Homo sapiens: one gene and its partners. The protein of the gene in region 1 interacts with the protein of each later gene in a pairwise test. Each region holds a gene or a part of one and is shown on either strand. Other genes may lie near its edges.

Evidence for each region.
Region 2: the proteins of STX11 (region 1) and DUSP29 interact in binary tests that used the Homo sapiens proteins (3 or more experiments, as listed by UniProt).
Region 3: the proteins of STX11 (region 1) and BACE2 interact in binary tests that used the Homo sapiens proteins (3 or more experiments, as listed by UniProt).
Region 4: the proteins of STX11 (region 1) and RNF8 interact in binary tests that used the Homo sapiens proteins (3 or more experiments, as listed by UniProt).

What each region holds. Positions count from the first base shown.
Region 1 is NC_000006.12:144,187,934-144,192,731, reverse strand, and holds the end of STX11 (syntaxin-11), read right to left. Parts: 3' UTR 793-4,798; downstream 1-792. UniProt on the Homo sapiens protein: SNARE that acts to regulate protein transport between late endosomes and the trans-Golgi network.
Region 2 is NC_000010.11:75,036,755-75,043,300, forward strand, and holds the end of DUSP29 (dual specificity phosphatase 29), read right to left. Parts: intron 1,324-6,546; coding exon 1,082-1,323; 3' UTR 718-1,081; downstream 1-717. UniProt on the Homo sapiens protein: Dual specificity phosphatase able to dephosphorylate phosphotyrosine, phosphoserine and phosphothreonine residues within the same substrate, with a preference for phosphotyrosine as a substrate. Involved in the modulation of intracellular signaling cascades.
Region 3 is NC_000021.9:41,163,151-41,171,650, reverse strand, and holds the start of BACE2 (beta-secretase 2 isoform A preproprotein), read right to left. Parts: upstream 3,492-8,500; 5' UTR 3,388-3,491; coding exon 3,076-3,387; intron 1-3,075. UniProt on the Homo sapiens protein: Responsible for the proteolytic processing of the amyloid precursor protein (APP).
Region 4 is NC_000006.12:37,391,433-37,395,559, reverse strand, and holds the end of RNF8 (E3 ubiquitin-protein ligase RNF8), read right to left. Parts: 3' UTR 826-4,127; downstream 1-825. UniProt on the Homo sapiens protein: E3 ubiquitin-protein ligase that plays a key role in DNA damage signaling via 2 distinct roles: by mediating the 'Lys-63'-linked ubiquitination of histones H2A and H2AX and promoting the recruitment of DNA repair proteins at double-strand breaks (DSBs) sites, and by catalyzing 'Lys-48'-linked ubiquitination to remove target proteins from DNA damage sites.

The DNA of each region.
Region 1 (4,798 bases):
GAGGCCAGAGGCCAATTAAAAGCTGCTGAAGTAATGGAAGCAAGAGAGGATAATTGTCTGACCTGGGCAGGTGGCAGTTGATTGATCCTGCCATTTGCAAGTTAAGATAGACAGAAGGAGCAGGGGATGGGGACGATGGTAGATTCTGTGTGTGTGTGTGTGTGTGTGTGTGTGTGTGTGTGTATACTCTGTTATTTTTACCCTCTATCAAACATTATGGGATGCTGAGATACAGAAGAGTGGATATGTCTAAAGAGTTGGCTATAGGACCATGAAAATATAGAAATATAGACTAAGAAAAATAGAAGAGGTCCAAGAAGTGTCTATAGATGCTTCAAATAGAATATAAAATGTAACTTAAAAAGAAACATCAGGAATTAAAAAATATAGTGTTGGGGACTTGTCTCTCAATCCTCATTTTGCAGGGCATCACTGGTTTTATTGTTGTTGTTTGCTTGTTTTTTGAGACAGGGTCTCACTCTGTTGCCAAGGCTAGAGTGCAGTGGTGCGATCTCAGTTCACTGCAACCTCTGCCTCCTTGGTTCAAGTGATCCTCGTGCTTCAGCCTCCAGGGTAGCTGGGATTACAGGCATGCACTGCCATGCCCAGCTAATTTTTGTATTTTCAGTAGAGAAGGGGTTTCACCATGTTGGCCAGGCTGGTCTCGAACTCTTGGCCTCAAGTGATCTGCCTGCCTTGGCCTCCGAAAGTGCTGGGAGTATAGGTGGGAACCACCATGCCCGGCCAGATATCACTCGTTTTAAAGCATCCTTTGTAGTCTCACTCAGAACATCAGTTCCGAAAATCTTTATTATCAATAGACACATGACTTTACAAAAGCTTCTAGTATATAAGGACATCTTGCCCATTCTTAATAACGTGTTGATAACAAAGACACTCATCATTTATATGATGAAGTTACATTCTAGATCCTATTCGTTTTCCATTTCTAATAGCCCCATTTTATTAATTGCAATGATTTTCAACTCCGCTATCAAAAGGAAGTCAACTGTTGCTCTGATTACAATTGGGTGTTTCAAACTATCGTCTTGATTACAAATGAATGAGTTGCATGCTGCAGTTGGAGATACTTCGCATACTTCAAAGAAAGGAGTAGAAATATGTCTGATGGTAAAATATAGAATGATAGAATTTATACATAAAAATCAAGACTATAGTTACCCTATTTTTTTTTTTAAGCTGTACACAATCTTCAGTAGTTTCCTGTCAAGTTAGGAACTTTATATGTTAGAGCCTGAACATATCTGCATATGACATTTAACTATAAAGCATTAGGACTGTTTTTAAATAAATGTAAAGGCATTGATATAAAAAGAGTACTGTTCTCTTTTTAAGTTGTTACCTTAAAAGGCCATAAAATTACTTCTGTGATGTCACAGTTCAAATATTTTTGAATGACTGACATTTTTAAAATTCTAACTCATATTATCCTGGATACCGATGCATACTAGATGAGCACCTTTCCTAGTTAGGACATTTCTGGAGTTGTTACCACCTATAATCTGTGGCTTGGTGGTAGTTGTAAAATTTGATATTTGGCTAGTAGAAAGTAGTCACTGTATATGTTAAAATAGCTATAAAAGATTCTTACCTTCAGCTCCTGAAGGATCTATTGTTCTTTGTGATTTGTTCTTTCATTTTGTACCCTAAAAGATATGAGTGTATAAAATTTGCAGAATTGCCACAAGGTCTTCTTGGCCAAAGTCACCTTTCAGAGTTGCCAAGCAAGCATCATGAGATTGGTAAAGCCAGCTCTACAGCATCTCTTGGTGGCACTAGAACACAATTTCTTAAGGAAAAAGCCAGCATTTCACCCACTGCCTGGTGTGGCAGTCAGAGCCAGGAAGGGCTTTGGTGAATAGGCCAGGACGTGCAGTGGGCCAAATGATGCCTTCTCTTAGGTCAGTGACCCAGCCTCTACAACTTCCTACAACTCCTTCCAGGACTTTCTGACTCACAGCTTGGGAAGAATTAGGAAAGAACACCTGCCAAGCTGAGCAGAACAGCTGCTTCCTGCTTACGTGTTTTTGGTGGAACATCTCATTTCTTCTTCAGGACATGTTTGGATATACACAGGGATAGAAATGCCATAGTGAAAACATCTTTATGACTGTCAAAAAAAAAAAAGCCCTAATATTCACAGAAGATGGGGTCTTGGTTTCTTTATTCCATTTTATTATTTATTAAGACTGTTAACAAAAAATAGGCTTTATTTTTCCTCTGTACTTAAAAACTATAAATTTACTTGGGTCACTAACAGTGCTCTCAGTCTGAGAGAAAATTACATAATAACAACAATAATGAACAAAGCACTTAGCATGTGCCAGGCACTGTTCTAGGTGCTTTTACATATTCAGTCATCACTTTTCACAACAGCTCTATGAGGTAAGTACTGTTATCTCCGTTTTACAGATGAGGAAACTGAAGCACAGAAAAACCAAGGTTCAGTCAGACAGCTAGTATGTGGCAGAGTCAAGATTTAAATCTAAGAAACAGGATCTGGAATCTGTACTCCTAACCATTACGCCACACTGAGATGGTTCCCAAACAGCAGGAAGAAGAAGTGTTCTTTCCCTATAGGTAACAGTTCACTCATTCTTTTGGTGCAGTAATGGACAGTCTGTACCGAACTCTCCAATATAAAACGTGAGGAATTAAAATGTATATAGAGCCTGAAAACTCACTTACTTTTATAATGGTTCCAAGCAAAGAAAATGCTTTATGGGTTCAAACATGTCAAATTTATGAACTCTTCGTTTTTTTGTGGAAACTGGCTGGCAGTCTCTATTTACAATATCTCTCCTCTATTATAAAAAACATTGCAGTGGAGCTATGTGAACATTTTTTCCCCTTTCCCTTAGAGAAAGCAAATTAAGTCAAAGGTGATACATATCCTTGGAGTTGGCTGAAAAAGAAATTGGGAGAAATATGAGAATAGCCTTGTGGAACTTGGTTTCCACAATTCTCAAATTTAACCATGAAATTAAAATTAGATACAGGGGATAGATTTTCCTGGTCATAAGCAAGTCAGGCAGTGAGCTCCAAAGAATTCACATACTCCTCCTTCTAATTCTTTTAAAATTCCAGCTTCTAAAGGACCTGAGAAATATGATCACTACTAAACTCACTCATGTATTAAATAATGATTAGGAAGAGCTAAGAGTTGACACAGAGGAAGGCCAGGAAACATGGTAAATGTGGGTAAGGGCATTAAGAAGTTTGCAGACTACACCATATCTCTAAAGCCTCATGATTTTGCTAAAGTATTGTAACTCAGGAGAGAAAGCAAGACACCCTCATGGGAATTCTTTTGAGTTTTTCATTCTTTTCCCCCTCCACTCAGTTCCATCCAGATGTGGCAGCCTCAGTAGCTAGTAGAAAAAAAATTTGGCCAGGGTCAGTGGCTCAGGCCTGTAATCTCAGCACTTTGGGAGGCCAAGGTGGGCGGATTGCTCAAGCTCACAAGTTTGAGACCAGCCTGGGCCACATGGCAAACCCTGTCTCTACAGAAAATACAAAAATTAGCCGGGCATGGTGGCACATATCTGTAGTCTCAGCTATTTGTAGGCTGAGGTGGGAGGATCACTTGAGCCTGGGAGTTTAAGGCTGCAGTAAGCCATGATTATGCCACTGCACTTCAGCCTGGGTGACAAAGGGAGACCCTGTCTCAAAAGGGGGGAAAAAAGGCCAGGCATGGTGGCTCACACCTGTAATCCCAGCACTATGGGAGGCTGAGGCGGGCGGATCACGAGGTCAGGAGATCAAGACCATCCTGGCTAACACGGTGAAACACCGTCTTTACTAAAAACATAAAAAATTAGCCAGACATTGTGGCACGCGCCCAGAGTCCCAACTTCTCAGGAGGCTGAGTCAGGAGAATCGCTCGAACCTGGGAGACAGAGGTTGCAATGAGCCAAGATCCTGCCACTGCACTCCAGCCTGGGCAACACAGTGAGACTCCATCTCAAAAAAAAAAAAAAAAAAAGGAAAAAGAAAAATTTTAACAATAATTGAGAAAGTAAACTAAATGGTCAAGCCAGAAATGTATAAAAATATGTGTATAATGTAATGTTTATTAAGCTTGCTTGAAAAACAGAATTCTTTTACTTTGAATTTCTCCATTTCAATGCATGGAAGGAATGGTCCACAGTAAAACAAAAGCAGTATTTCCAAGAATGTTAGTTGTCTCTAGCTCCGTATACATTTTCTACCGCCATATGTCTACCGCCATAACCAATGCAGAGTTGTTTAACATGAAGTTTGACCCAAACTGGACTAGGAAGGGGCAAACTGGAGTGAAACAAACTCAAAACAAGCAAACCAATACCAAGAGCCAGAAAAGTGTTCGTCTTGAAATTTATATACCATACTTACATAAAAGAAGTTAAACCAATTGATCATTATGTACATATATTAGTGAATATTAGTATTTTACATTTACATACATGTGCATATGTAATCAAGTAAAAATATAAATGTTAAATAATTTTTATCAGCGAAAAATACACAAAACATGACTGATACTTCAATTTGAGTGCTTGTTCGATATTCAGTGCTTAAAAATGTTTGGAAAAATAATACCAAAATATAACCTGGTGAAAGATATTTAAAAAGTGAAAGAGATAAGAAAATAGTAAGTGTTTGGTGTGATTTTAATAAGTAGGGGAAATGAGCAGAAATAAGATCTATATTTGGGGAGGAATTGCATAGCGTAGACCGGATGAAGAATCGGAAAGGAAGAACGTGGTTTTTCCCAAGGCCAATTTCGCTCAAAATG
Region 2 (6,546 bases), on another chromosome or scaffold:
GCCGGCATCTCCAACAGCAGCAACTCTCTTTGGTTTCTGTCTGGTTTGGGATTCCTGGCCCTGGAAGCTGTCACTACCCGCTTCATGTCTGCTGCCGTTTTCTCCTTCAGAGTGGAAATCACGCAGCCATCGTGCCTGGCTTAGCTCTCAGGGAGGCAAACTCCACACCTGAGCTTACCTGGCTGCCCCATCGTCCCATTCCACAGCAGACAACAATTTGCAAATACTTTCTGCTATGACTGAAAAGCAGCTCGTGTTGCTTTGACTAGAACCCACGTGAAAAGAGCCTCCCTGAGGTCCCCGCTAGAGAGGGTCTCCTCCCTTTTTTTCCCCAAAATTAGAAAGTCAAACTCCTACTTGTCCAAACTCACCACAATTCATTGAATTTTTCTGAGTAGTGGCAGCCCTGGCTAAGAGTCTGAGGAGCCCTGCGTCCCTTGGGAAAGTGGGGGAAGCCTAAAGCAGGGGCCTCTGTACAGAGGTTCAGGACCCCTCCCCACCCTGCTGGAGGAGCACATCTAGAGATGGTGGCGTGAGCCTAGGGGTTCCGCTGAAAAGACAAGCGGCGTGCAAGGGATGCCACAGAAACGCAGGATGCCCGGGAAGGAGCCTCCACAGCTACGCAGGCACTCCCGTGACACTGCTCACCTGGTACGGTTCTGTGGTTGGAAAAGCAATTTCTATTTTAAAATACTTTTTATAAGAAGATGACTTTCCTTTCAGACAAAGCCAAACGTTTAATCACAACATACTGCCTACACATTTTAAAATCTTTTCCCTCTTCCTTCTCACCAAAAAAACAAAACCAAAGCAGGAGACTTGGTGCAGCGTGGCATGCTCCTCTGTGACCCAGAGCCGGGGAGCCCGTCCCTCCCATTTTGCTGAGAGGCTGAGCGCTCAGCTCTGCCCGGGGGCAGCTCTGGGTCCTCCCTGTCCCCAGCACACATGGGGAAGTTGAACAAGATGGTTTGGAAGAGTCGAGCTTCGGTTTCACCATCCCTTCTCTGGAGTCCTAGGCCAGGGCTATGTTCTGCCTCTCCCCTCTGTCCCCAAGTGCCTCTGCTGGCCCTGTGAGTCGGGCCTACAGCTCCCTGCCATCCTCCTCCTCACCGTCCTGGCGCTGGGACCGTCGCCTCTGCTGCACCAGCTGCTTGTCCAGCTCCCGGAGCTGCTTCAAAAAGCCCCGGTTCGGGAGGACGCAGCGGTTCTTGGCCACTTGCTGGATGGCGTCCACCAGGGTCATGTCCTTGTGGATCATCAGGTAGGCCAGGACCAGGGTGGCTGACCGGCTGCGGCCCATGACGCAGTGAACCAGGATCTTACCTGCAGATGGAGCAGGGAGGAGAAAACCCACACTGAGGGGCAGGTGTTGGGGGCACAGGTAGGGCCCACTCCCATCCTGACTGTCACCCTCTCGCCCACAGAAAGTGACTCAGCACTGTGCCCCACAGCTGCCTCTGTAGAACGGGGACACTCTCGGTGTCTTCTTCATAGGGTTGTTGAGAAGGCAAATAACCCTGTAAATAACTCGATTTTAGCACAATTTGTTTGTGCTAATGAATGGCTGCTGAGCTCCTACAGTGTGGCTGGGCTGCCTTTCCCCTGAGCACCATGGCCAGAAAGCAAGCACCCACTTCTTGATTGCTGTTTCGGATCTGGGGGAGGCTGGTCCCAGGTTCTCCCTGGCATGACCGCGCTCCTGGGGTGTGAACGTGTCCAGCTGGATGAATGTCCACCCCTGGCATTCAAATCCCACGGACCTTTCTGGAGGCTGCCGGGCCTCTGGCCAGCCCTGCTGATAACCAAAGCGTTTCTTCCTCTCCCAGAAAACAGGGTAATTCTTTCTGTCATGACTCAGTACTTGAAACAGATGAAAGCTGTAGTTCATTAAGCCTTTTGGGGGCCTGAATTCTGTTAAGTGGCAGAGGGGAGGGGAGAAAGAGTTGGAAGGGAGATGGAGGGGGTGGGAGGAGAGGGGGAGGTGGAGGGAGCAGGAGAGAAAGGGGAAAAGGAGGGACAGAGGACACTAAGCTCTGGTAGGAGTTCCAAGAGCTGAATTTTGTTTCCAAGACTAGGGCATGAGGCCGGGCGCGGTGGCTCACACCTGTAATCCCAGCACTTTGGGAGGCTGAGGTGGGCGGATCACTTGAGGTTGGGAGTTCAAGCTGGGTGAATGCACATGTGTTACTATTGGAGGAGTCAGGCCTATTGAGAAGAATCAAGGTCCAGGCAACACTTTTGTTCCTTCTTGTGGTCAGATTAGCTGAGACCCATCATGCCAGAGCACATCTCTTACCATCACAGGGGCCAGCACTATACCTGTGTTGGGCTTTTATTTCCCAACTTCTGTCAGAGCTCCTAGGGTCCCCCTGGCCAGAGCACACTTGTTGCAGTGGGAGAGATCAGCGCCCCTCTCATGCTTGGAGATACTTTTCTTCATGACTACAGTCAGAGCCCTTGAGGCATGCCTGACCACAGTTCATCTTTAGGAACAGCAGCAGCTAGTGCATACCTATGCTTGCAGGTCCTTATGTTCTCACATACAGTCAGAGCACCTGGAGCCCATGTGGTTAAAGCCTGGCCAACATGGCAAAACTCCATCTCTACACAAAAATTAGCCAGTCGTGGTGGTGCACCTGTAGTCCCGGCTACTCAGGAGGCGGAGGCAGGAGAATTGCTTGAACCCAGGAGTTAGAGGTTGCAGTGAGCTGAGATCGCGCCACTACACTCCAGCCGGGGCGACAGAGCAAGACTGCATCTCAAGAAAAGGAAACCCAAATCCAGAATCTCTACTGCTCCTCAATTGCATGCTTTTAGGAGTGACTGGAAGGTAGGCCTCTGTCACGAAAATCAGACGTAGGCTAAGACTGTTACCCTGCACCACGCTCCGCCCCGCAGCCAGGTGTGCTCCTTGCTAAGCAGACTCCTTCCTTGCTTTCAGGAGATGCTTTCTGCCCATCTCCCATGCACTATCTGGGAACCTGCCTTTCTTAGTAACTTGCAAAGAAATTCTGGTAGAGCCCTTACTTCTTCCCAAGAGGTTCTAGGTGTGTGGAAGTTCTGAGAAACAAGGTGCAAGGTGTATTATGAACTGCCGGGGCTGGAGGGAGATAGGGCAAGAGACCCTTCCAACAGTGAAAATCGGCTGGGCGTGGTGGCTCATGCCTCTAATCCCAGCACTTTGGGAAGCCGAGGTGGGTGGATCACTTGAGGCCAGGAATTGGAGACCAGACTGGCCAACATGGTGAAACCCTGTCTCTACTAAAAAATACAAAAATTCACCAGGTGTGGTGGTGGGCACCTCCCAGCTACCTGGGAGGCTGAAAGAGGAGAATCGCTTGAATCCGGGAGGTGGAGGTTGCAGTGAGTGGAGATCACGCCACTGCACTCCAGCCTGGGTGACAGAGCGAGATTCCGTCTCAAAAAAACAAAAACAAAAACCAAACAGTGAAAATCTGGTCGGTTAAAGCTTATTAGAAGCACCAGAGAATCAACCTCCTGCTTGAAAGCAGGCTTCATTTATTTATTCATACTTCCCTTATCCATAATATATTTTAAGATGCCTTCAGAAGCAGGCCATGGACTGCCAAAAGGAGAGCGTGATACTAAAGTCTGATCTTTAGCGCCTCGTGGCATTTGCCCTGGAGTTTCTTAGAAGACTTCATTAAATTAAAACCACACTAATTCACCTCGGAGGATGCCGAATCGGGGGCAGTTAAAGCAACCCAAGTGGGGTTCCTGTGACAGTATTTTGTGAGTACTTCTTTTTCTGATGAAGAGTGACAAATTCAGTTTTTTCAGATCCTATAACCAGCTGGCATGACTCGCCCTCCATGATATTCGGTGACCTCTTATACAGCAAAGTCACCAGGTGCTCAAAATAAGGGCAGAGGACTCTTCTGTGAGGCCTCGGTGACAGAAGGAATCCCCGCTGGTAGGCAGGTGTCCTGATGGCGCTGCCTCTGATTAGCTCTGTGACCCTGGGCACCTCACTTGTCTTCTCTGGGCCTCTGTTTGCCCAGCTGTCAGGGCAGGACCAGGGACTGGATTATCTCCGAGATATTTTAAGAGTGACTGAGGTTGCCTGGGGAGTTCTTTATAAAGGGTCAAGTCAGGGTAGTGATGGGATGGGAGAGGGCCCCAGGGGCTGATTACAGCCCACGAGTACAGCTCCACAAGGAACGCTTTTCAAAAAGAGTGAAAATGACCGGCTGTGAGAAGCCAGGTAGGGGGAATGGTGTACACTTGGCTGAAACCAGTCAATGAGAACAAAGAACATAGACAAGAGGAAGCAAGGAGTGATGCCTTGCTTTTTGGCCAGACTGTCTATCCACACCACTTACATAGAGAGTGTAAGAAACATACAAGTAGGTCCAGCACTAAAATGCCAAGCAGTGTCCCTTGCCTAGACACAACTGCATGTGGCAGGTGGGCTGAGCACCTGCCGTCCACTGGGTATGAAGTCTGTGGCATTGCTGCTGCTGAGCTAGCGGGCATTTTGTTTGGTTGCTCTGGCCACTCAGGGCACAGGTTACAACCTGATGGCCATTGGGTTGCTTTAGTCTGTCCTTTGCAGCATTTTAAGAAATTTCAATCTGTTGCCAAGACCTAAAAATCGAGTGATTTTATAATCCAGATTGGAGACTTCTGAAAAGTCAGATCTCCCACATTTGCACTGACTCTCACAAGACAAGCATTAGCTGAGGCTGGGTGGCAGGTGCCCCTCTGAAGGGGTACAGGGCTCTCTGCTTAGCCACAAGTGCCCCCTACCCACACCCCTCCGCTGTACATGCAGCCATCTTCATTTGTTTACACTCTGCATGGTTCTGCAGGGTAGGCGTTTGAGCCCTGACTTGAATTATTTAGATATGCCAGTGCAAAGGTGCTGAGAGCAGAGCCTACCCTGCCATCTCCAGTGGGGTCATGTCCTGCTCCCCATCCCTAGCCATCTGGTCGAGTCCCGGCACCCCCATCCATTCATTCTATCCCACTCATAGTCTCTGATCCAAGTATCTACTCTCCTCCGTTGGCCCTTTGTTTGCTAGGTGCCACCTGGTCTAACAGTCATGATCCACAGCAGCCTGACACCTCCTCATAATGTTCTGTCATCTGCCTAGGCCTAAGCTTCAACTTGAGAGCCTGATTCTTTCTGGATTTGGCAGTGGGGGCAGACCCTAAAATTGAGTGCCAGGAACCTACAACAAGCTTTCATGTGAGTATATCTTACAGTTCAAAGTTGGAATGTCTTTTTTTTTTCTTTGAGGATTGGAAACTTTACGATGATGATGTGCACATGCTGGCGTGGTTATATGCTTCACAGTGTATGACCACGCTTTATCAAATACATCCGAGAGCCTGCTGTCCACCAGGTTCTATGCTAAGCGCTTTACGCGCGTTACTGCTGATCCTCATTATAACCTCTGAAGGTAAATATTTTTATCACCGGATGGAGAAACCAAGGCTCAGAGAAATCACATCGTTAGTAAATTGTGTGACAGAAATGTAAACCCAGCCCTGTCTTCTCCGAAGCCTGCCAGGCCCCTTCCATGAAGGGTAAGGTCTAAAATATAGTAATGGCAAGTGAGTGCATTAAACAGAAACTGAAGGATTAGGTTGTTGCAGTCTTTGTTTTTTTCATGTCAAATGTGTTTTCAGTTAACTTCAAATACTATGAGGCAAATTTTACCTTGTGGTGATGACTCAGTTCAGTTGTGTTTTTGATCCTGCTTGGAAACCCAGAATGTACACAGCACAAAAGATGGTTCATAAATAGACTCATAAAAGGAAGGCCTGGAAATGAGGCATCTTCTAATACAGGCATGTTAGCTCTAAGGGTTTTTTTTCATTGTGACATTGCTTTCTGAGCCAAAATAATGACAAATTGTTGGTGGCTATGGTTGGCTGTGGGGCCAGGGCCACCTTGGGATGTCCATTAAGGTCTGATATTGTCCAGCAGACCTGGCCTAGGCCCAGCCCCAGGTTGCAAGTTCCTGCAGCAGACTATTTGGTCAGTCACTGAGCCTTGTAATCACAACCTCTTGTGGCAAGAAAGGCTTTCAGTAACCAGATACCCTGAATTATGTGATGGCTCCACAAAGGGGTGTGTGACACATTGGGCTGAAGTCAGAGCACAGATTAGGGAGCTGAAGTCCCTCTGGCCTCTGTGGAATTCCACTGAAGTACACCCTGCAGCAATAACTGTATATTGTCTTACCCCCGATGCGTCCCTAAGCTGTGCCCTTCTCTCCAAAATAGCCTTGTAGCCTTTGCTGGATTAGGGTAGCCAACAGTGCATTCTGAGCACAAAGACTAGCACTGTGATTTAAAAGCTGGATAATTAACACTGGGAAAACTTGGACGCTGGGGGTGCAAAACCCAAATTATACCTCAAATACAGCGTGCCAGTAAAGCCCAGCTTGTCAGCTTTCTACTGGAGGCCTCACGAGGCTGAGTGTAACTGGGGAGTGTAACTTGGTTGGTGGGCAGGAGAATTTAAGGTCTCTCCATGGATTCCCACTCAAGTCAGCTCCCTGAGGGTTTTCTGGC
Region 3 (8,500 bases), on another chromosome or scaffold:
ACTTTAGAAGAGTGTTATTATTAATAAGACCAAATTGCACGGTTCAAGCAGGTGCTGGTTGAAAGAACTGTTCAAAAGTTCTACAGTTCGAAAGAACCCACATAATGGGATCAGCCGCAAACCTGGCAGTCATCTCCATGCCAACGTGGCCCTGCCTGCCAGCACACACGCCTTGCAGCTCTCAGGCGGGCTTCCGGGCACATGCCTGTGACTCCTCACAGAGTCACTGGGCTTTAAACAATGGACCTCTAGTTCCTGATTAAAGCCTTCGGGGAACAAGCACACTTCCAACAGTTGACTTTCCCATAAAAGAAGGGGAGCTGGAGGGCTCTGGTTCCTGTTGAACCTCTCCTCTCAAGGCCTCTCCCGTGCACACCTGGATCCAGCCCTTCATTCTGTTGCTCATTCAGCAGTGCTGAAGGAAAGAGGAGATGGGGGAACAGCACGGAGTTCCGGAGGGTCCAGTTGCAGTCATACAATAAGTCCCTAACACCTTGGGGTGTACGTTCAGGGTTCTCTGGCTAGAAAGGGTAGTTTGAGGCCAAAACCAAAGAGATCAGGAGGCATGAAGGGAAGGAAGTCGTTATCTGTCTGGTGGTTCAGAACTTGGCTTCTGAAGTTCAGCTCCCTGGCTTCCATTTTTGGCCCTCCCTCTTTCTTGCCCTGTTGCCCTGGAAAGTCATTCAGTCTCTCCGAGCTTCAGTTTTCCCACCCCCAAATGCGTATAAGACCCCCGAGGGGTGGTGGGTGGTGGGTGGGGATTCCTGGGAAAGCACACCTAAAGCACAGAGCGCAGTGCTTGTCACGTACTGAGCTTTCAGACATTGTCTATGACTATTACTTAATTCTTGAAAAATTCTTGGTTATTTATTGCTTGAATTTACAATTCCATTTTTCTCTCCACCTAAGCAATTTTTATTTTAGGCTTCAGAGAATCAGCAGAGAATAAATGCATGACTCCTGGCCATTAATAGAGCAGGAAAGCTCACTCCAGGTTCAGAAGTCACCTCACTGCTGCCCCCTCTAGCCGGCTGCTGACACCCTGCTGGTGGTCAGAGACATTTCAGGGCAACACAGGCAGGTAGTGAATCCTAATGCAGTAGTCAGGAAAGCCTGACTTTACAGTAGGCATTTGGAAAGATTTGGTTATAAAGCAGCTTATCGCTAAATCAAGCCAGGAGGGAGGTACAGGATATTTCATTCCCCATCACATGTAAAAATTAAATCTGTCTCTGTAGAAGCAGCGCTCCCTGGAAACATGCTAATGGTTGAGAAGTAATCTTGAACCAACTACTGCCTTGGCTACGGTAAAGACAGGAGCCTAGGTACTCAATACATTTCTGTTAATTAAATTAATTAAACCTCATCATTTTAAAATAAAGGTCATTGAATTAATTAACAGGCAAGTTATTATTTATAAAAGCTTTTTTTTTTTGATTGCCAAAGTTAAGTATTTTTTAGTCCTTCTTCAGGCTTCTCCCTTTCCCCTTTGCTCTGGAGGGAGGGTTTCAGGGCTTCTTTTATCATAGCCCTCAGACCACCCACATTTACTTTTAGTAGAGAGAATTCCCTCGCATCAAAGCACACATGTCCAATGGGGATTCATTCAAGGCCTGTTCCAAAAGATTCTCTGCAGGTCACAGAAGAGGTTCTTCCTCAATATCTTGTCATATTTCCAAGGTTCTCAGCACCAGGCACATGTTCCCACGTGTTGGCTGCACCAAGACCACATCTTACAGCCAAGTTAAGCTCCCTCAGCTGATGGGGATTCCTATTCCCTCCCTCTAACCATCCACTCCTGGAGATGGCAAAGATCACTCACGTGGCTTCCCATGACTTAGACGAAAGGCAACTAGAATCAAAGTTTGAATATACGCTTTTGAAGGTTTTTTTTTCCCCCTAAACTAATTAAACAACTACAGAAGTTATTCGGCAGTTTCCTTTTTTAAAAGAATTAGCATGGCATGTCTTTCCTCTTAAAGTCTTGAATAATTTAATGAGAATTATACAAAAGTCATGAGTATGTTCTATTTATGGGGGAATCATAGCTGAATCAAAACCCAAATGACAATGTTAAAAATAAAAATAAACTATCTTCAAATAGTGCATTCAATTGAGCAAAGGACTTCAAATCCCACTTGGATTAGACAGTTTGAAAGTAGGAGGGGGCAGATCAATTGGGATTTTTTTTTTTTTTTTTTCAGATCACTGTGCTTGGGAACATTTGTTTCTTGCTACAAAAAGTGTTAGTAAATGAACATCAGAGTAAGAGAAAAGGAAAGCTGTTTGATTTTATTTTTGTGTTGTAATCGGGATACCACTTGGTCCCCGGACACCTCACTCAGCCCCTGTTTTTTTCCCGGTAGCTGGAATGCTTTTCACACTCTGCACACCCGCGTGTAGATGCATCGCTCCGTGCAGAGGGGCAGGGCCGCCGGATGAGCGAGGACACAGCTGACAAACCAACTCCGAGAAAGGAAAGCGGGCGCAGGGGAGACGCTGCTCCTTCCTCAGAGCAGCAAGCGAGCCACTTCTTAACCGGGTTGCTTTTAGCTGAGCTCATGCATAAATCCTTTTTAAAGGGTACTGCGCCTTTGGAAGCCGGCCACGAGCCTCTTTAGCAATGAGACAGCATGGTGGTGGGGTGGGGGGGGGGCGGGGGGGAGGGAGGGTATGAACACGAGGTGATTTTCCCCATAATAGCCCGTCGCCCAAGGCCCACCGCTCCGTCTCCCGCTGGAAGTAGGTGTCGCCCGCAAGAAGGAAATCACGTTATTGGAGGCGGCAAGTTCCAGGTCTCCTCTCCCGCCCAGCCCCGCGGAGGGGGAGCTCACAAGTTCTGAAACACTCGCGCACACCCCTCAGTGCGCCCCGGGCGGGGGCTGCCGTCCTCCGCGACTCAAGAGCGAGCGCCCCCGCTCCCCGGCCCACCCGAGCCCCTCTGCGTTCCCCGCTCTTCTGTGCGGGGACAGCTGCTGCTTTGGGGGCGACGCTAAGCCGCGTGGAGGCGTCTCTGGACAGCCCCCTCCCTCCAACGAGCCCGAAAAGCCCGCGGCAGCAGCCGGGGGTCCCTACCTTCTGCGGGGGGGTCCCGATCAGCATCTCCAGGTAGTAGCCGCGGCCAGAGTCCCCCTGCAGGTTGTCTACCATGGCCAAGAAGTTGGCGGCGCCCGCGGGGGACGCCAGGGCAGGCTCCAGGGCGAGCGCCAAGCCGTCGGCGTGGCGCTCGGCAGGGGTCCCGGGTCCCGGGGTGGGCGCAACTACGCGGTTCGTGGCCGCGGCCACCCGGAGGGGCAGCGTGAAGGGCGCGGGGGCCAGCTCCGGGGCGGCGCGCAGGAGCCACTGGGCCAGCAGAGGCAGCAGCAGCGCCCGGGCCAGTGCGCCCATGCCCACGGCGGGGCCCGGGGGGCGCGCCCAGCCTAGCCGGTCCCGTCCCGTCCGGCAGCCGCGGCTCAGCGACTCGGCCGGCGCGCGGGGCTGCGGGCAGGGATGGGCGCGCACCGGGACCGGCGGCGGCGGGGAGGACGGGAGGAGGGCCCAGGGGAGGAGGCTCGCGGGAGGGGAGGAGGCTCGCGGGAGGGGAGAAGGCGGAGGCCGGGGAGGCGGGCGCGGAGGCGCAGAGCCGCCCCAGCCCGCGCCGCCAAGTTGGGCAAGTTCTTCTCCGCTGCCCCCTCTGGCGGCCGCGACTGCCCCGCAGCGGCCCAGCCCCTCCCCCGCGGCCAAGGTCACAGCGGGGCTCGGGGGGCGCCGGGGTCCACCTGCGCCTGCCCTCCCCACCCTCGCCGGGCTCAGGCCGCGCCTCTTCCCCGGGAAACTCGAGTCCCGAATTTCCTCGGAAAGCGCCCCAGCGGCCACGGCCAACGGATGTGACGAGGCTCATCTGATACCGGGGGGAAAGTTTCGAGAACCCTTAAAGGGGCAGCGAGGGCCTGAACTAGGGCCCCGGCCCCGCGCGCTTGGGGGTCCGCGGGGGTCTATTCGCCCGGCAGTGGCGGGAGCTTCCGGGGGTGACTCGGAGGTCAGCGAGGAGAGCGGTGGATCGGGAAGGAGCCTGGAGCCTCGCGCGCCTTTCCGAGCCTGCGCCTCCCCTCGCCAAGCTCCTCCGCCTCATTTCAGTCGCCGGGTCTGGCTGCTTTCGAGGCGTTTCCCGTCCGCTGCCCCCGAGCCCCCGCCCTCAGTCCAGCCCGTTCCCCGGCCTCATCCCCCGGCGGCCCCTGGGTGGTTTTAAAGAGGTCTCAGTGGAGGCTGGGAGGGTGGAGGGTGGAAGGAGGCAGAGGAGGATGCGAGAGCTTTGGAGAATTTTCCCTAAAAATCGGGGGAGGTGGGGGGCGTGGCTGCTGCTGGCGCCTGGCCCCAGCCTCATTGCCCCCCCTTACTCCCTCTGTTGCCCACAGCTAGCTGCGAAGCTGGGCTTCACCCCAGCCACCTTCCCCCCACCCCCGCCCCCTTCGCCCCCTCCGCCGCGCCCCTGTCCCTAATGCAGGTCAGATGCTACTGGAACCCGCTGCCTCCCCTGGCACCCAGCCCTCAGGCCACCTAGTAAGTTGCTGTCAGGATCCCAAATCAGGGCCACGAGTCCACCCTGCTGTGATCCCTGCCCTTCTCCCCCACCTCCCCTTCTATCCCCAGCCAGCTCTCTGCGGACTGTCTAATTAATACTCGTTTAGCCATAGACGCCAAGACGCAGAAATGCGTTGAGTAATGCAAGCAACGAGGGTTATTTTATTTTAGATACTAAAGGCAGGGGGGACAATTAGACAAGCTAAAGTCCATCGATTTCTACAGAAACAAGGAATAGAAAATTCTTTGTACCTCCTCCAGCTGAATTATGTTGGCTGTTTTAAAAAACAAACAAGCCCATCTTCAAACAGTGGGGAGTTAGAAGCCAAGCTTCCCCGAATCACTGCAATTTTCAGCTACTTCTACTCAAGATTTGATTTTTATTCCTGTGTTCCCAATTTTAGAATCACGTCTAGCTCTGCAAGGGACCTTTATGTCAGAGATCTTCAAATGTATTGATTTTCAGATGACTTTAACCATAAATCACACTTCCCCCAAACTATATCTCAACTTTAACAAATCCCCAACTCCATGAAGAAAGGCATAGCTGGATCCCGTGATATAACTTAAGTTGATATTCTCCATAAATCTGCATAGTTATTCCAGAGCCCTTCTATTCATATATTCACGTTTCAGATTCAAGGTTGTGGAGGGAATGTGATTTTTTTTAAAATGATTATTTATACTCCTTGGTGTCCAGTCTTGAGGGGTTCAAAAAGACATTCAGACAGCTCTGGGAAGAATATAATCTTTCTGAAAAGCACATGAAATGTATTAGGGCCATTGATAAAGAGGCTATGTGACATATAAGTTTAATACTAGAGACATTTGCTCTGTCTAATAATTAAAAGCCACAAGGGAAATTTTTAAAAAATCAAGTCTAATTAAAGTTTGTACAAGAAACGCGTGACTCAGTCTAGGGTGAGTATTCCTAAGCTTTTCATTTTAAGAGGGATGGTTTGGGTTTGTGGGGAAAAGGATGCATAAAGATCCAGGGATGGAGGAGCACACAGGCTTCCATGGATGGCAGAGCTGTCTTGTCAGAAAATAATGCAAGCTGAAGGGACAGCATTGGGTGACTGTCTCCTTGGTTGTCTCTGTTTTCATGAATGGTCTTAGAGCATATGATCCCTATTCAAGCCTATGGTGCTGGGTGGATTTGGGAGACAATAATTTTACTTTCCAGGTGTTGGAACTGAAATGATAAGTGGCAGCCCTCTCATGGAATAGCATTGATTTTTAAACCATGGTGACCGATGCAGGGCAGAGAAAGGAGAAGGTGAGACCCACCCTCCTGACCTCACCCCTAACATCAGAGGACATGGGATACTGCCCTGCTCTTCCTCACTCCACCAGAGCCTCCAACTCCTTCCCTTCTCCTTACAGCCTCTCAGCACCCTCGTTTTCAGCCATGGCCTTCCTGAGTCCATTCAGGAAAACAAAAGCCCTGCAATTAGATGGGCCTTCTCTCCTTGGAAAGAACAAACATCACCATTAAACATGACCCTGGACGGTGGAGAGCGAGGAAGGATCTCACTCTCCAGCCCAAATGACTAATAGAAGATTCCTGGTAGGAACGTGTGGCGCTCAGCCAGAAAGAGTCACCATCCCATGTTCCACTGATGTTTGTTGTCTCTCACTGCCAGCTCCCAGTTCCTTTTACACCTGCGATTGTAACCGGGCCTATGTTAGATGAATCATAAGGTGTTTGTTTTCCTTTATCGTGGTCCTTGGCTTCCTCCAGGCATGCCTGTTTGCACATAGTCCTTTTAATAGAAGGGAGTCCCTTGTCATTAACTTTATATCCTGGCCCCAAGCCTCCTCACATGATTAATGAACTTGTTTTTCTTTTAAAGAACAATGATCTTTAGGTTAGGCAGATCTCTTTGATGGCATCCAGAAGTTTGATCGGGCTGGGCCGAGGGACGCAAACAGCTTTGATCATGGGGGATCTTACCTCCCACATACTTACCTTACCCATAGAGGCGCCAGCTGTGGTCCTGAACTGATTCAGAAATTTCAGTATTCTGAATTCTGTATTTCTGAGGCCTTTAAAAAAATGATCCTTTGATATATCTACTGAAAAGTTCTGGAAACAATAAGTATCCTTAGTATCATATTAGGGTTACTAAATATCACTTCCCTCCAGAGAGAACCAGGGCTTTTTGGAGAAGGCTGATTTTATAAACTGAATAAGATAACCCTAGAATATCTCATCACACCAGAAAGCAAGGATGTTATCAAAGACTTCTGAGGTCTTGTCATAAGCTGGGGCAAAACGGAGACAATTTAAACATCATTAAAGGCAGTAACTGCAATGCCTCAAAACACTTCAATTATGTTGAAATCTATTTGCTCATAATGTTCTTTTTAAAAGTACATTGATTATCTTTGAAGAATGCTAAGAAGCCCAACTCATTATTTTTAAAAGCTGGTAAAGAAAGGAAAGGGATCAAGCATGTATTATCTTAACTTTCCTGTACAAACTATACGTCAGTATAAGCAAATAGTAGATAAAGGCGAGTTTCTCTTTGTAAAAGTATTGCAGCTAATAAATGAAGGGACGATAGAATTAGAATGTTGCCATTTTACTTCCCTTAATGAGTTAATGAATCTGGACACCGAATGTACATGGCTGATAATATTAGAGGGAGAGGGAAAGAGAAACACCCTGACATTCTAAGCCTTCGGATGGAAATCCGCAATGCTACCCATCTATGACATGTTATCGCCAAACAAAACAAAACAAAAAAACCCTGAATCTGAACAAGCCTGTACATCACAGGTTAGCAATCTGCCTTCTTGGGACCAAATCTGGCCAACTGCCTGTTTTTATAAATAAAGTTTTATTGAAACACAGCCATAGCCATTCGTTTAAGTCATAGCAACAAAGACAGAAGGGCCCACAAAGACCAAAATACTTGCTGTCTAACCCTTTTCAGTGAAAGTCTGCCAACCCCTGCTATAGATCAAAAGAATCCCAGTACCCCTATCAGTCTCTTGCAATAGATGGACCTTATTCAGTCCTGATTTGAACAAAATGACAAAATTGTTTATGAGACAATTAGAGAAATTTGAACACTGGTTGGATGATATTATGGAATTATTGTTAATACTTTAGGTGTGATAGTGGTATTGTGTGTGTGAGAGCTCTTATCTAGTGGAGACACATGCTGCCATATTTATGGATGAAATGAGACTTGTTTCAAAATAATGTGGGTTGGCAAGGATTTCAGGCAATATTCTCAGTTATTTAATACAAAAATGACCCTATTAGCAGGCATTATTATCATTCTCATTTTACAGACGAGAAACTGAGGCACAGAATTGATAGTTGATTGGTGAGAGGTGGGAATGGTATTCAGAACCCTGGGTCTGATTTCAGAGCCTGTACTCTTCCTCATGGAGCCAGGGCCACCCCTTTGATGTGAACTTTCTGGAGCTCATGGACTGCCCCAGCTGGAGAGGCCTCCAGAATGCCACCCGCATCCTGGCAGGACACAGAAAGTGCAATAGGCCAGTGGAACCCTACAGGCTGCATCCATAACCGGGCACTTAACAGACATATGCTGAACCCTCCCTGTGCCAAGCTCCACGCTAGAGGCGGGCTCACATGGGCGAATAACACCCAGAAAGCCCCTTCCATCAGAAATTACAATTTGGCAGGAGACAGACTGACTGTAAATATGTTTCCTTTTTGGGAACACCACTCTAGCTTCTAGGTGGAGGAGAGTTGGGGGTGGTGAGGCTGGAGACAGGGAGACCGATTGGGAAGCTGCTGCGAGGATCCGTGAGGACAGTGGCGATGGGCGTGGGAGGGGGAATTTAGCATTTAGTGCTTAGGAGATGAAGCCCTCGCAGCACAGGGAAGAAGCATCATAGGACTCTCATGTGATGGGAGCACTCAACACACAGCCATCTGCATCATAATCTCTCCTGT
Region 4 (4,127 bases), about 110 Mb from region 1:
TTTGCCAATTTCCATGGTGTGAATACTACCACCATGGCTGATTTCAAACTACCAACATGACCTCACTGAATGTAGAGTTGGGAAGAGACGCACACCATCAGCTGCAGAGCCAGGGCGGCACTGGGAGAGGCCCAGGGAAGACGGGCAGGAATTGAGATCAGGAGAGCACCCTCATAGCCAGGCTGAAACTCACAAAGGCTCATGGTCCTGAAAACTTGTCCAGCCCCATCCACCACTAGGTTAAGTTTGGTGCCAATATTTGCATCAGAAACATTCATCTGTGCTTACCTTGGCTGAAGTACCTGAGGCTTCCACAGAGGTCTCCTGGGTGCCTGCCTACACAGGACAGTGGTATGTGGTGCTTCAGGGCCTATTCTCCATGCTAAAAGGCCAAACTTGCCCTGAAACCTGCCACAGAGATGCCCTTGAAGGCCCCTGGGTAGAGCTGGGTAGAGGCCCAGGACAGCTTGATCTCTAAGGAACTGGTCCCTACATCCTGAGGGCCGGTGGGTGGTGGTAAAAGCAGCAGGCTGCAAAGGCTTGGGCTACCCAGGTCCTAGAGATGTGAAACGCCAGTTCTGGATCTTGGGATGGGCCAGCGTAGCCTGCTGGATCTCCTGCGTGGAGGTTGAGGAATGTGAGGAAACACCCAACATTGCTACCTCAGTAGGTAGCAGTGCGTAACCCCCTCCCACAGCATCTCATAAAACCTTTGAAACGCTTTTGACACCTTTCTAGAACATCAGCTCACAATGGTTGTGTTTTGCTCATTGCCATACCAAACACCTAGAGCAGTGCCTAGTAAGAAAATGGGCATTTGATAACTATTGCTGAATTGAATTTATTGAATACATGCAGAGTACAAACGGCCCCAAATCACAGCAGGTTGAAGTATTCACAGAGCCTGAAGGAAAGTGGACAGCAGAGATAGTGGCTCTGGAAATTGGATGAGGTGGGCATCTGGAATGTAGTAAAGCAGCAGCAAGCAGGAGATACTGCTTGGCGACTAGATGAGCTCAGGTAGCCCATCACTGGTACATTGTTTGGGGATGCTGTAGACAAAGGAATGACAGCATTGGAGTATTTATTGAATGCCTATCACAGGCTGAGCCCTTTCCTAGGATTCATATGCTTTTCTCAATGGAAGAATCAAGAAGATAGTTCATTATTTCTCCTTAATACAAGGCCCCATCGTCTTCCCAAGAACCCCACACTCCTACTGCCTCAACTCCCATTTGTTGGAGAAGCTGAAAAAGCTGACCAGGTAGGAAGTTTCTTTCTCTGAATGAAGCTAACTAGGGTTCAGAACAAGCCCTTGACCTATTGTGACCAATGGCAGATCCTGTTCCAATCAGGCCCCACACCTATGAACAAGTCTGTATCTCAGAGCAAGAGACAGATAACAATTCCAGGATTCTCCTGATCTTAGATTAGGACCACAATACAAAGTAGACATTCCTTCTTACTTTCTATGTCAAATTTAGCTAATCACTGGATTCATCAGAAGCCTAGGGGGTTCAGTGTCGAGATAAACATACCTAGGACACCCCATGTTTCTGGGTTATCCTTAGATACGATGAGGTGGAGAGATTCCAGTCACAGAGAGAGGCTGTAAAGAGCAAGCAGGCAGTTGGAGAGAGCTACCAATCCCAGACACTCCAGCAGTTATGGTGACTGCCTGGATGGTCACTCACAGAGGAGGAAAAAGTAGTGAGAGAACTGGAGACAAGGGGGAAATGCAGGTCTTTCTGTACAACAGCAGCTTCCAATCAGAGAAACAGATGATGGGTATCCAGCTATGCAATCCACAAAGGACAAAGTCCCCTGCTTTGGCACAGTCTGATTGTTGGGATGAAACATGCCTAGAGGTAGAGTGAGCCCTTTCTAGGTTAACATAACCAGATATGGGACACCTGCCATTCACTGCAAAGTGCTTCATATAGCTGGCTGCATTCATCTGCTTAATAAAACCAGATAATGAAACAAACCCCCTTTTCCAGTTCCCCAGAGCCCTGCTGTAAAGAAGGTGCCTTTAATTAGAGTCAGACTGCACAGCACTGGGGCTCAGCTGTACTATAGTTTGATGCTGCAAGGCAGAAAAGTTACCGTGTATTTTCTAGGCAAGTAAAATGCAGATGATGTTTAATATCAGATATCTCTCCAAGGAAAGAACATTCTGTAGCTCAGACAAATAATGCAAGTTTGGGTTAATTTTTGGTTTGTCTTTTAAACATAGTACATTCAGGCTTTTGTTTGTGATCAGGGCAATAATGACAGATATAATTACTTAGAGATGAAGAAACCAAAACCAAGACACAAGGAGGCTGAGTAACTTGCCCAAGGCTCACACAGTTACTAACAGCAGGGCCAAGATTCAAACTCCGCTAGTCTGGCTTTTAATGTTGTTGTATTGATTTATTACTCTTTTTAGTCTGTCTTTAAGAGCTCACTTTCCTAGATGTTGTGGAACACTTGAGAGGGATGTGGTACTCTGAAAGGAGGGGCTGCAAATCACTCTATGTCCAGCAGCTGTGGGATGGAATGGTCAGTCTGTGAGGTCAGTCTCTGTACATAGTCTTCAGGCTCAAGTCAAGATGTCTCTTCTTGGCCAGGTGCAATGGCTCATGCCTGTAATCTCAGCACTTTGGGAGGCCAAGGTGGTAGGATTGCTTTAGCCCAGAATTTCAAGACCAGCCTAGGCAACATAGTCTCTATTAAAAAATAATAAAATAATTTTTAAAAAGGTATTTCTTTTTAAAATATCTTCTCTCTAAAGATATATGTACAAGGGTGTTAACTGCAGCATTGTTTTAAGAGTAAAAAGGTTTGAACCAACCTAGATTTCTATCAAAAGTAAGCCAGAAAAGTAAATGATGGTGCAAATACACAATGAAAAAACAGGCAGCTGTAATAAAGAAAGGAAACTATGTACTGACATGGAACTGTTGCCAACATATATCTGAAAAAAGCAAGGTTCAGAATAGCGTACAGTTTACCATTTGTGCAAAGCAAGGAAAAAGACCACATGTGTTTTTGCTTGTATAGACAGAGATCTCTGGAAGAATATACAAGCAACTGTAATACTTGTTGCCTCTGAGTGGGAAGTAGTCGCTGTGGGGAAAGGGTGAGAGGCATTTCATTCTACGCCATTTTGTACCTTTAATTTCAAACTATGTGAACATATTGCCTACTCAAAAAGTGTATGTCTGTACTCTCTTAAAAATGAATTACAATATGTAAACTAAACACAGAACATATAAAAATTGACATATACCCATGCAATCTATAAACAAAACACATGTATGGGGAAACAAGAAGTTATTAAATCAAGGTGGTAACAATCTTTTCCTTTTGTTCTCTATTTTTCCAGAATTCTTATGATGTGGTTATAGTAAGTACTTTTAAAGCATTTTTTCCACATTTAACTTACTTCCTCCATGACTCTACCAGTATTTTGATCAGTAATCATGGGCAGAAGAATGGAAATGAAGACTAAGGACTCCAGAATCCCAAAATTCACAGTATATTCAACAAAGAAAAAATCCCTACCATCCTTAAAAAGTTGGCAATCAATAGTTTCCAACCCTTTATGAAAATACATGGGGTATAGGCTGGGCGTGGTGGCTCACGCCTGTAATCCCAGCATTTTAGAGGCCTAGGCAGGTGGATCACTTAAGGTCAGGAATTTGAGACCAGCCTGGCCAACATGGTGAAACCCTGTCTCTACAGAAAAACAAAAATTAGCTGGGTGTGATGGCATATGCCTGTAGTCCCAGCTACTTGGGAGGTTGAGGTGGGAGGATGGCTTGAGTCTGGGAGGTGGAGGTTGCAGTGAGCTGAGATTGCACTACTGTACTCCAGCTTGGGCAACAGAGTCAGATCTTGTTTCAAAAATTAAAATTAAAATTAAAAATAAAGGAGAGGTGGAGAAAAGAGAGAAAACTTCTAATGTAAAAGAAAAATAAAGAAAAAAGCACATCAAGTTGTCATAAAATCATTGCCTGTGTGTTCATGACGTCAGATAAAATAGATTTGGAAACATTCAAATGCCAGCTGAAGGAAAGGAGTTTCTCCCACCCCTGAAACAAGGTAAACAGTGACCCACCTCTGTAATAAAAAGGAAACAC